Linked DNA regions of Homo sapiens: region 2 is linked to region 1. A link means that fine-mapping ties the variant in region 1 to the expression of a gene that starts in the linked region. Tissue or cell type: whole blood. Region 1 holds a variant in brackets; the other region holds the start of a gene. All regions are shown on one strand. Distances are between the middles of the regions.

Region 1 (5,013 bases):
GGCCTAAGGACAAGGAGCAGGTGCTGTTTCCTACGCCCACGAAGTCCAGGGGCAGTGAGTTTCAGGCACAGCTGCATCTGGGCTCAAGTACAGTTGCTCCCTCCATTTCGTCTTATCCTGTGTGCACTTCATCCTCAGGCAGGGATTATCTCCCTGAGGTCTCTCCCTGCAGCTCCAAGTGACTCCCCTGTCCCCTCCTCCATCCCCAGGCAGGAGAGGAGGCTGCCTTTCAGCCAACAGAACCCCAGGATCAGCTGCTTTGGCCTGGCATTGGCCTGGCTTGGGCAATCGTGATGCCTGAGCTCACAACGGTGGACTCAAACCCTGGCTGAGGATGCACGAGGAGTGGAGGGGGAGTAGTGGTGGTCATCCCTGAAGCTGCTTTGAGGTCCCCGCGAGGAGCCCCTGCTTAATCCCCCAGCAATGCCTCAGGGGTCCAAGTGCCATCCTGCTGGGACAGTGGGCCTGGGCACAGAGAGCCTGGCCGTGGTTGGGGCGGCAGGGAAAGTGCGACTGCAGAGATGACCTTCTCTCGGGGCATCTGCTTCTCTTGTTCCCTGGCTGCTGTGAGAAGTGAGGCTGAGAGAGCAGGGAGAGGGGCAGTGATGGGTGATGGCAGTTTGGCAGGTCTCAAGGGGCCCGGGCAGGATGGCTGTGGAGCCACCCGTGGTCCATCCGTAGGAAGGAAGCCTGCAGCCCGCTCGGGGTCTGCTCCCTGCTCACCCAGGGCTGATACAGCCAGCTTAAGGGACAGGGTCGCAGGCTGGGCGTGGGGGCTCATGCCTGTAATCCCAACACTTCAGGAGGCCAAGGCAGGAGGATTGCTTGAGACCAGGAGCCCAAGACCAGCCTGGGCAACACAGACAGATCCTGTCTCTACAGAAAATAAATAAAGAGGCAGGGGCACACCCACACCACAGGCCAGGACAGCGGCCCCCAGAAAACCAAGCTCCAATCACACCTCAGCTCCTTCTGCTGAGACTGGGGGCCTGTTGAGCCCTGGGGCCTGGGTCCGAGGGCAGAGGCTGGGGCAGGGAGAGTGCAGAACTGAATGGAGCCTGACCCAGCGCTCTTCCCTCCTAAGGATGGCGCCCGGTGGAGACATCAAGCACGAGAGAAGGAGTGATCCCGGGAAGGCTCCCTGGAGGAGGTGGTGCCTGGAGGCGGTCTTGAGAACCCAGGTCTGATCTGAGGGTCAACAGCCCGGTGAGTGCAGAGGCTGCCGGAGAACTGGAGGAATAAAAAATCTTTGCCGGAGGAAAGGAGCTCCTGCCTCCCCGGAAAGTCCCTCCGTGTGAGCCAGACTGTTGCTGGCGTGCAGTGTGCACCTCCTAGGGCTGGCTGAGAAGTATTCGCTGAATGAATGGAACAGATTGCATCTGTGCAGCCTCCCTCCGTGGGCTAGGCATGAAGACGTGATAGAGAAAACAGAAAAGAAGACAGAAAGCAGAACGGTCTCCACTGTGCTTTTCCAGAACCCTCTGAAAGGCCGAGAGGGCTCCAGGGCAGCTGGGACCCAGCCCCAAACCCAAGTCCAGCTGTGGGGGACCCAGCCCCAGCCCAGGAGCCCTCGCCCCATCCGTAAGAGCATTTGGTGGGGCCTCCTGTGGCTATGATCCAACAGAGCAGCACTGCCTGGGGGGCCTCCGAGCCAAACCCAGGCCATGACCCCCGATCCCTGCTGGTGCCTGGGGGTGAATCAGGCCCTGGACAGTGGTAAGCATCAAGCCAGGGGGCCGCTGGGCCAGGCCAGAGGTAGGGACAGGCCCTGGGGGAGGGGGATGTCTGGACCGTCAAGCTGGTTGGCATCCAGCTCCTCCTGCTTCCCATGCCAGGGTGCCTTGAGACCCGGCTGGTGTCTGCCCTGAATACCTTGCCCACCCCCTCAGCCTAGGTCCCCCACCAAGTGGGGACCAGGCTTGGTGACCCCGGTCCATCCTGCAGGCCCCCATCCAGGGCGCAAGGCTAGGCAGGCCAGCCAGGGGCCACGTGCTCCTGGCTGCTCCACACACAGGCCGTTGGGGCCCTCCCCTCCAGCAGCTGAGGTCAGCATAGGCAGGGGCCTGGTGGATCTAGTGGAGGGCGACAGACAAGAACGTGGGACATGTGGCCAGCACACCTGTGCTCACCGCCCAGGGCTGCTGGAGGGCTAGCCCCGTCTCTGTCCACCCCCTGCCTCCCGCCTGGGTGGGGTAGTCTGTTTGGGGAGGAAGCAAGGATGGCCACGG[C/G]GGGGGCACACTGGAGGCCCGTTGTGAGTACTGTGCAGGCCGGTCTCCATCTGGCTGCCGCCTGGATCCGTTCTCAGGGTAAGGCTGAGAGGCCAGCCTTACCCTGGAACCTGAAGCCTGGTGAGGAGGTGGCCCCTCCTCCTCCCTCTGTCCCCACCTCCTGCACCTCCATGCCCCTCCCCAGACACACGCCCCTCACGCTCTGCCCCACCCGGCACCTTCCCCTATGGGTGCCTCCTCCCAGAAGCCTTCAGGGTTATTCCAGGTCTTCCCATTGCCTGTGCTGTTCCCAGAGCTGCTGGCCGTGGTCCCAGGTAGTGTATGCCCTCACCCCTAGGGCAAACGCAGCGCCCTGACCCCTCCTGGAGCCTTGGGTCCTCTTCCCCTGCAGAAGGTCGGGAAGAGGCGCCACGTGGAGGAGCTGAGCAGTGCAGGTGGGCTCAGGGAGCCTCGTCCTGGAGGGGGAGTCTGGGCCCTACGAGGACGAGGACAGAGATGGGGACAGGGACGGGGACGACCCTCTCTGTTGACTCCCTGGAGTCCCGCAGATCCAGGGCAGCTCCTGGGGACCTGGTGCCTGCTGGAAAAACTAACCCAGCTTTGATCAGTGCTGGGGCCGGGACCCAGTGAATGTGGCCGCCCCCGTGTGCTGGGGGAGGAAGGATGGGGGCTCCCAAGCAGCAGGCAAAGAATGCATGCGTGTGCGTGCGTGTGTCTATGTCTGCGTCTGTCAGTGTACACGTCTCTGTGCATCCGGGTATGTCTGTGCGTGTCTCTCTGGGCTATGTGTGTGTGCACGTGCGTCTGTGGGTCTGCGGGTGTGTCTGAGGGTGTTTGGTGCGAGCTGTGACAGAGGTGTCGGGAGGAAACTGACACTGTCCCCTTCTGCCCTGCAAGGGACAGGTCAGGGTGGGAGAAACAGTTCCTCCCTCCACAAGGCCCTGAGCCAGGGCAGGGGGCGACAATTGCTCTAGAGGCAGACTCCCCTCCCCTGGGTCTGGGCACGAATCACTGTCACTTGCTGCCCACACGCCTTTCCATACACACACACACTCAACACTCATCCCACACACACTCGCACACGCAACACTCACACACTCAACACTCTCACACTCACCCCACACACACTCACACACTCAACACACACACTCAACACTCAGTCACACTCATCCCACACACTCACACACTCAACACTCACACACACCCACACATTCACCCACACTCACACACACTCCACACTTATCCCACACACCCACACACTCACCCCCCACACACTCAACACACACTCATCCCACACACTCACACACTCATCCCCCACACTCAACACACACACTCATCCCGCACACACTCACTCAAAGACTCATACGTTCAAACATACTTCCCCCCATTCCCCACACACTCACACTCAAATACGTACACACTTCCCCTCAATTCACACATACTCACACACACTTCCCCTCAATTCCACACAAACACACACTTCCCCATTCCACACTCACACTCACACACACTTCTCCAATTCCACACACACACACAGTCACACTCAAACACATACACACTTGTCCCCATTCCACACACACTCACTCTCACACACTTCTCAATTCCACACACACATACACACTTCCCCATTCCACACTCACACACTCACACTCAAATACACACACATTTCTCCCCATTCCACACACACAAACACATACACACTTCCCCATTCCACACTCACACACTCACAAACACGTACATTCTCCCCATTCCACACACACTCAAACACGTACACACTTCCCCCATTCCACACACACTCACTTCCCCATTCCACTCACACACTCCCCCATTCCACACACACACTCTCACACACTCCCCCATTCCACACACACACTCACTCTCACACACTTCTCCTCAATTCCACACACACAAACACATACACACTTCCCCATTCCACACTCACACACTCACACTCAAACACACACATTTCTCCCCATTCCACACACACACAAACACATACACACTTCCCTATTCCACACTCACACACTCACAAACACGTACATTCTCCCCATTCCACACACACTCACAAACACGTACACTTCCCCCATTCCACACACACACTCACTCTCACACACTTCCCCCATTCCACACACACACTCACACACACACTTCCCCAATTCCACACACACACACTCTCACACTCCCCCATTCCACACACACTCTCACACACTCCCCCATTCCACACACACTCACTCTCACACACTTCCCCCATTCCACACACACTCACTCTCACACACTTCCCCATTCCACACACACACTCACTCTCACACTTCCCCATTCCACACACACTCACTCTCACACACTTCCCCCATTCCACATACTTATGCTCACACAGTCACACATACACACAAACTCACTTCCATACTCACACCCTCAACACACCCATACACACACACTCCCAATTCCACACACTCTTCCACTCACACACTCACACTCATTCACTTCCACACACGCACACACTCCAATTCCACTCACACACATTTCCACTCACACACACTAACACTTTCACACACGCTCACTCATACACTTCCCCCAATTCCACACTCTTCCATTCACACACACATTCATTCACACTTCCACACACACTCCCACAATGCCACACACACACTACACACTCACATTCACACTCTCACACACACACTCTGCCACACACACTTCCACTCACACACACAACCAGAAAACAAGGGAACAAGCTGTCCCACCTGGGCTGTCCCTGGGGGAGCAGGGGAGAGTGCCTGGGACCGAA
Region 2 (5,013 bases), 75 kb after region 1:
AATTAGAAGATAGGGACAGCTGCACATGTCACACAGCCCTTCTGACCTTGTGTGTGCTTCAAGTCCGAGATTCCTGACACAAAGCAGCGTGTGCCCCCCCACCCACTCTGTGGCCACAGCTGGAGTCCTGGGCTGCTGGGTGCTCCAGGTGCCATACCCCACACACGCATAGAGCCCGTGGGCTGGCAGCGGGCACCCACAGTGGCCTCTGCAAAGCCTGCCTGGCTGCGGCTCGTTTCCTCACTGCAGCATGCTCATAGGAATGTGGGAGTTTCGCTTGAAGTGTGGGTAAAGAGTTCTGGGGTTGTTTGAGCCATCCCAGGCCACAGGGCCTCCAGGAAGTGGAGGAAATGGTAAATCCAGGGTCCTCTTGGCCACTGCGTTGGCCTCTGCACACTTGGCCCCTGCGGACCCTGGGGCTTCTGCTTTACTGTCTGTGACATAAACAAGTGACGCTTGCCACCTTCTTGCCGGGAAAGCCAGGCTGGGTTTTCTCATTTCCACCTTTTCCCTGTTTTACACGAGGGCACGAGGATGGGGCTGCAGTATCAGTGACGCACCTGTCACCAGCGGGCCACAGAGCTTTGTGTTAGCCCCTCTCAAGCCCTTTAGCTTCTGGAACCGTTTAAATTCTTAAAAATTATACAGGACCCCAAAGAGCTTTTGTTTATGTGAGCTTTATCTATTGACATTTACCATACTAGGAATTAAGAGGACATTTAAAATTATTTAGCTACATAAAAATAACAATAACAAACTTACTACCTGTTAACACACATTTTAAAATGAAAAGTGGCTACATTTTCCAAAACAAAAAACGTGAATCTTTAGCTCAATCAATGTTTCAAATGGAAGCATTATGACAGTCAAAAGCTGGCAACTAAACATAACTGGCACAAGCTCTGCCACCGAGACAATGGAGGCCTGAGTAGTAGGCTCCCTGCAGAATGAAAGGACTGGAGCTGCCAGCATCAACACCAACGCATCTCCCAACAAGGGTGAGTGAAAACACACACCTAAAGACCTCAGAGAGCACGTAAGCACACAGCTGTGCATCCACTCTGAGGGTGAGCCACCAAGCACACGGTGACCCCGGGGAGCGCCCGAAGGGAGTGAAGTATCTGAAGGAAAGAAGGAAGTGAGCGATGGGCAAAGGAGAACCTGAGGACCCTGGCACAGTCTCAGCTGCAAACATCTAGTCTTGCTTAACTGGGGTGCAGAGGCCACTGCACCTCAGGGTTCTCACGAAGCGCCTGACCTCTCTATTTTATTACTATTATTATTATTATTTTTTTTTTTTGAGAAGGAGTCTTCCTCTGTCGCCCAGGCTGGAGTGCAGTGGTGCAATCTCGGCTCACTGCAACCTCCACCTCCCGGGTTCAGGCGATTCTCGTGCATCAGCCTCCTGAGTAGATGGAATTACAGGCATGTGCCAGCATACCTGGCTAATTTTTGCATTTTTAGTAGAGTCGGGGTTTCATTCACCATGTTGCCCAGGCTGGTCTTGAACTCCTGGCCTCAAGTAATCCGCCCGCCTCGGCCTCCCAAAGTTCTGGGTTTACAGGCGTGAGCCACCGCGCCTGAGCCCTCTAAGAGCCCCCGCCTGGCGTCGCTGTAGGCAAATCCCAAAGAACGTGTCCCTTCAGCAGCCGGCTGGGGCGCCACAAACACTATCTGTTGTCTTCGCTTTAGTTTGTGTCAAAGTGACTCAAAGTTACACAACACTGGCGGGCGACTGCCGCCTTTTTACCCTGTGGCCTTTCCCATCCAGGCGTCCAGAGGGTGAGCCCCTGCCCTCCAGGACCCCTCCCTTCCAGGACCCTACCCGTCTGGGACTCAGGCCTTCCCTGACTCCTCCCTCCCGGACTCACCCCTCCCAGATCCCTCCCCTCCGGGACCCTCTCCCCTCCCGGGCCCCCTCCCCTCCGGGAACCCCTCCCCTCCCGGACTCACCCCTCCCAGATCCCTCCCCTCCAGGAGCCCCTCCCCTCTCGGGACCCCTCTCCTCCCGGACCCACCCCTTCCTGACCCCTGCCCTCCCGGACCCCTGCGGGACTAGATGTATACAGCTGAGACCATATCACGGTTCTCACCCTCGCTCTACCCTCCCGGACCCCTGCTCTCCCGGACGCGTGGACTCCAGCTCCCGCCTGGGTCCCCAAAGCGCTGAACCCATGGTCACTTCTATGCGTAGCCCTGGTGCCCGCCGCCCACAGCCGGACCGCACTCCTCGGCCTCCGCCTAACCCCTGGCTCAGCCACACGAGTGACAGCTCTGCCCGCCCGGGCGGGCGACGCCGAGGGGTGGGCTCGGCCCCACCTGAGCAGTTCCCCAGCGCCCCTCTGAAACCCGCCTGTGGTCCCTGGCGCCGCCTCTAGGGGCCGCCGCCGCTCCCCTATGACACAGCAACAATAGGGGCCGCTCTGGTCCAAGCGCCCTGCGGCCCGCGCTTCCGCCGGAAAAGAGCCGCCGGCGCGGGGGCGGACCGGGGAGGAGCGAGTGCGATGGACGGTCGCCCTCGCCAATCGTTGGCAGGTTAGAGCCGGCTGCGCGGCTTACGGGGCTCAATCGGCGGCGAGAGCGGCAGGCGGGGCGGGCCGAACGCGGGTTTCCGGCGGGGCCCGGCAGGCGCCGAGGAGGAAGAGCGAGCCCGGACGGCGCCTCTCGAACGAGTGTGGGCGCGAGGCAGGTGCGGGAGTCGCCGGGCCTGGGGCGGCCGGGGGCGACCGGAGGCGGGGGCAGGGGCTGCTGGACCAAGGATGGGGCGGGGGCAGCCAAGACGAGAAGGTGGCCGGCGCGGCGGGTGGGGCCTGCGGGGGCCGGGCCGGGCGGGGGTTCTGGGGTCTCGGGCGCCGCCCCGGTTCCGCCTGCGGCTCTGAACGTGGGGCTCGGCGGGAGCTCGGGCGGGTCTGCCCCGCGGAGCGGGTCGCCGGGGTGGCGCGTCGAGGCTGGTGCCCCGCGGAGACGGCGTCAAGCCTAGGGCCGGCCCCACTAGGCTTGGCGGGGCTGCCCCGGCCCAGCGCCGAGTGCGGGCGGTGCGATCGTCGTGAGCGGGGCAAACGCGGAAAGGCAGCCCGGCGTGTCTGAGTCTGCCTTAGGCAGCTCTGGGCGCAGGCCCCCTGCTCGCAAACACCCCAGGGGGCGGGAGCTTGCCGGACCGCAGGCGACAGTGACCGCCGCGTCTCAGCGTCCTCTCCGCGCTTTCAGGATGACGACCTCAGGCGCGCTCTTTCCAAGCCTGGTGCCAGGCTCTCGGGGCGCCTCCAACAAGTACTTGGTGGAGTTTCGGGCGGGAAAGATGTCCCTGAAGGGGACCACCGTGACTCCGGATAAGCGGAAAGGGCTGGTGTACATTCAGCAGACGGACGACTCGCTTATTCACTTCTGCTGGAAGGACAGGACGTCCGGGAACGTGGAAGACGTGAGTGTCCCTGAGCCGCAGCAGCAGGACAGGCGACTTCTCGGGCCCTCGGAGTCCTCGCTTTGGAGTTCGCGGTGGGGGCTTGGCCGCATCTGGGGACCGCTCGTGGGGCCGTCATCGACTGCCCTGCTGATGGGTCGTCCTGGTTTCCGCGGTGACAGGGGCATCTCGGCCACTGTGTATCTTGAACTGTCCGTGTGAGGTGCCTGGGTTGGAGGTGTGGCCCTGGAGAGCCCGGAGCTCTGTGCCTGGCCTTGAACTGTCCGTGTGAGGTGCCTGGGGTTGGAGGTGTGGCCCTGGAGAGCCTGGAGCTCTGTGCCTGGCGGCTTCACTCAGTCTTCTTTGTTTTTCAAACTCTTAGTTGTTCTTTGTTACATTTGAGAGCAGTTCAGCGTTGACTTTTTAACTACTCTGGGAATGTTGTTTCCAGCACGTCTCAGAAACCCCGTTGCCATCTGAAAGGCCCCTTTCCCTGCTCTCTCCCCCGGCCTTGCCTTTCATGGGCTGTCTCTGACCCTGGCTTCTCTGCCTTGTGGAGACCCTGCCAGCGAGGGGTCTGGCGGCTTAGCTGCCCCTTGCGCACCCCACCCGGTTAGACCCAGGGCTCAGTACGCTCTCCTGAGACTGGGCACAGTGATGCCATCTGCGCCACTGACTCTCTCTTCCCCTGGCTTGCCAGGACTTGATCATCTTCCCTGACGACTGTGAGTTCAAGCGGGTGCCGCAGTGCCCCAGCGGGAGGGTCTACGTGCTGAAGTTCAAGGCAGGGTCCAAGCGGCTTTTCTTCTGGATGCAGGTATGGGGCAGGCCTTGGGGTTGTGCCTTTTTGTTGCCCTGCGATTCGGTTAGGAACTTGCTTACAGTGTGGTGCAATTGGCTTTTATAAACCAGCAGGCGCCGGCCACACCCGGCCACACGGCCTGAGATGCCACCTCAGGGCTGCGGTGCATGCTACCTGGGGCCGAGGTCCTCTCCCAGAGTACGGAGGCTCCAGGCTGGGCTGCGGGCAACCGATTGCGGTGTGAAATTTCCAGGCAGACAGACATGCTGGCCCTGGTTCTAACGATGCCCAGTGCCCTCTCTCTGCCCCTTGCCGTGGGTCACTGAGGCCCCCACAGCAGAGGCAGAGGCCCCTGTGTGGCTTCCCTGCTGGTGCTCACAGAAACGAAGCATCCTGCTCACACTTTCCACAGTCCTGCCCCTTCCCTGGCAGTGTGTCCTGGAGGCCAGGGGTGTCAGTGCCCAGGGTTTCTCTTACCCACAGCTGCAGAGCGTCTTTTGGGTCTAGAGGCCGCTGCTCATTCTGCCATCTGTCAGTGACCATTGAGCTTGTTGCCGTTTTTTGTGCTGTTACAGGCAGTGTTGCAAAGAATTTCCCGGTACACAGATCATTTTCCATAAGCCAGTATCATCTGTAGGTGAAAACTGGTGGCGGGCCTGTGGTCAGGAAGCGTGTGCATGCGTTTGCAGTGTGGAGAGAGAAGGCCATGCTCTCTGCCAGAGGTGGAGCTGCTGTCCCCACCCCACCCCCCTTGGCACTTTCAAGAGCAGGGGTGGCCCTGGCTGAGGTCTCTGTGGAGCACATGGTCTGT

The links. PIP is the estimated chance that this variant, and not a neighbour inherited with it, causes the effect.
Region 2: it holds the start of ADRM1, and the variant in region 1 is fine-mapped to the expression of ADRM1 in whole blood (INTERVAL, PIP 0.94).

What each region holds. Positions count from the first base shown.
Region 1 is chr20:62,225,760-62,230,772 of GRCh38, forward strand. It overlaps LOC105369209 (a long non-coding RNA gene), which reads left to right and starts at 2,484. Exons shown (of 4, transcript NR_160555.1): 1 at 2,484-2,542. RefSeq lists an enhancer at 2,347-3,247. The variant C/G (reference allele first, on the strand shown) is at 2,229.
Region 2 is chr20:62,300,361-62,305,373 of GRCh38, forward strand. It overlaps ADRM1 (ADRM1 26S proteasome ubiquitin receptor), which reads left to right and starts at 2,637. Exons shown (of 10, transcript NM_007002.4): 1 at 2,637-2,689; 2 at 3,208-3,421; 3 at 4,101-4,217. The coding sequence starts at 3,209. RefSeq lists silencers at 2,147-2,266, 2,287-2,746.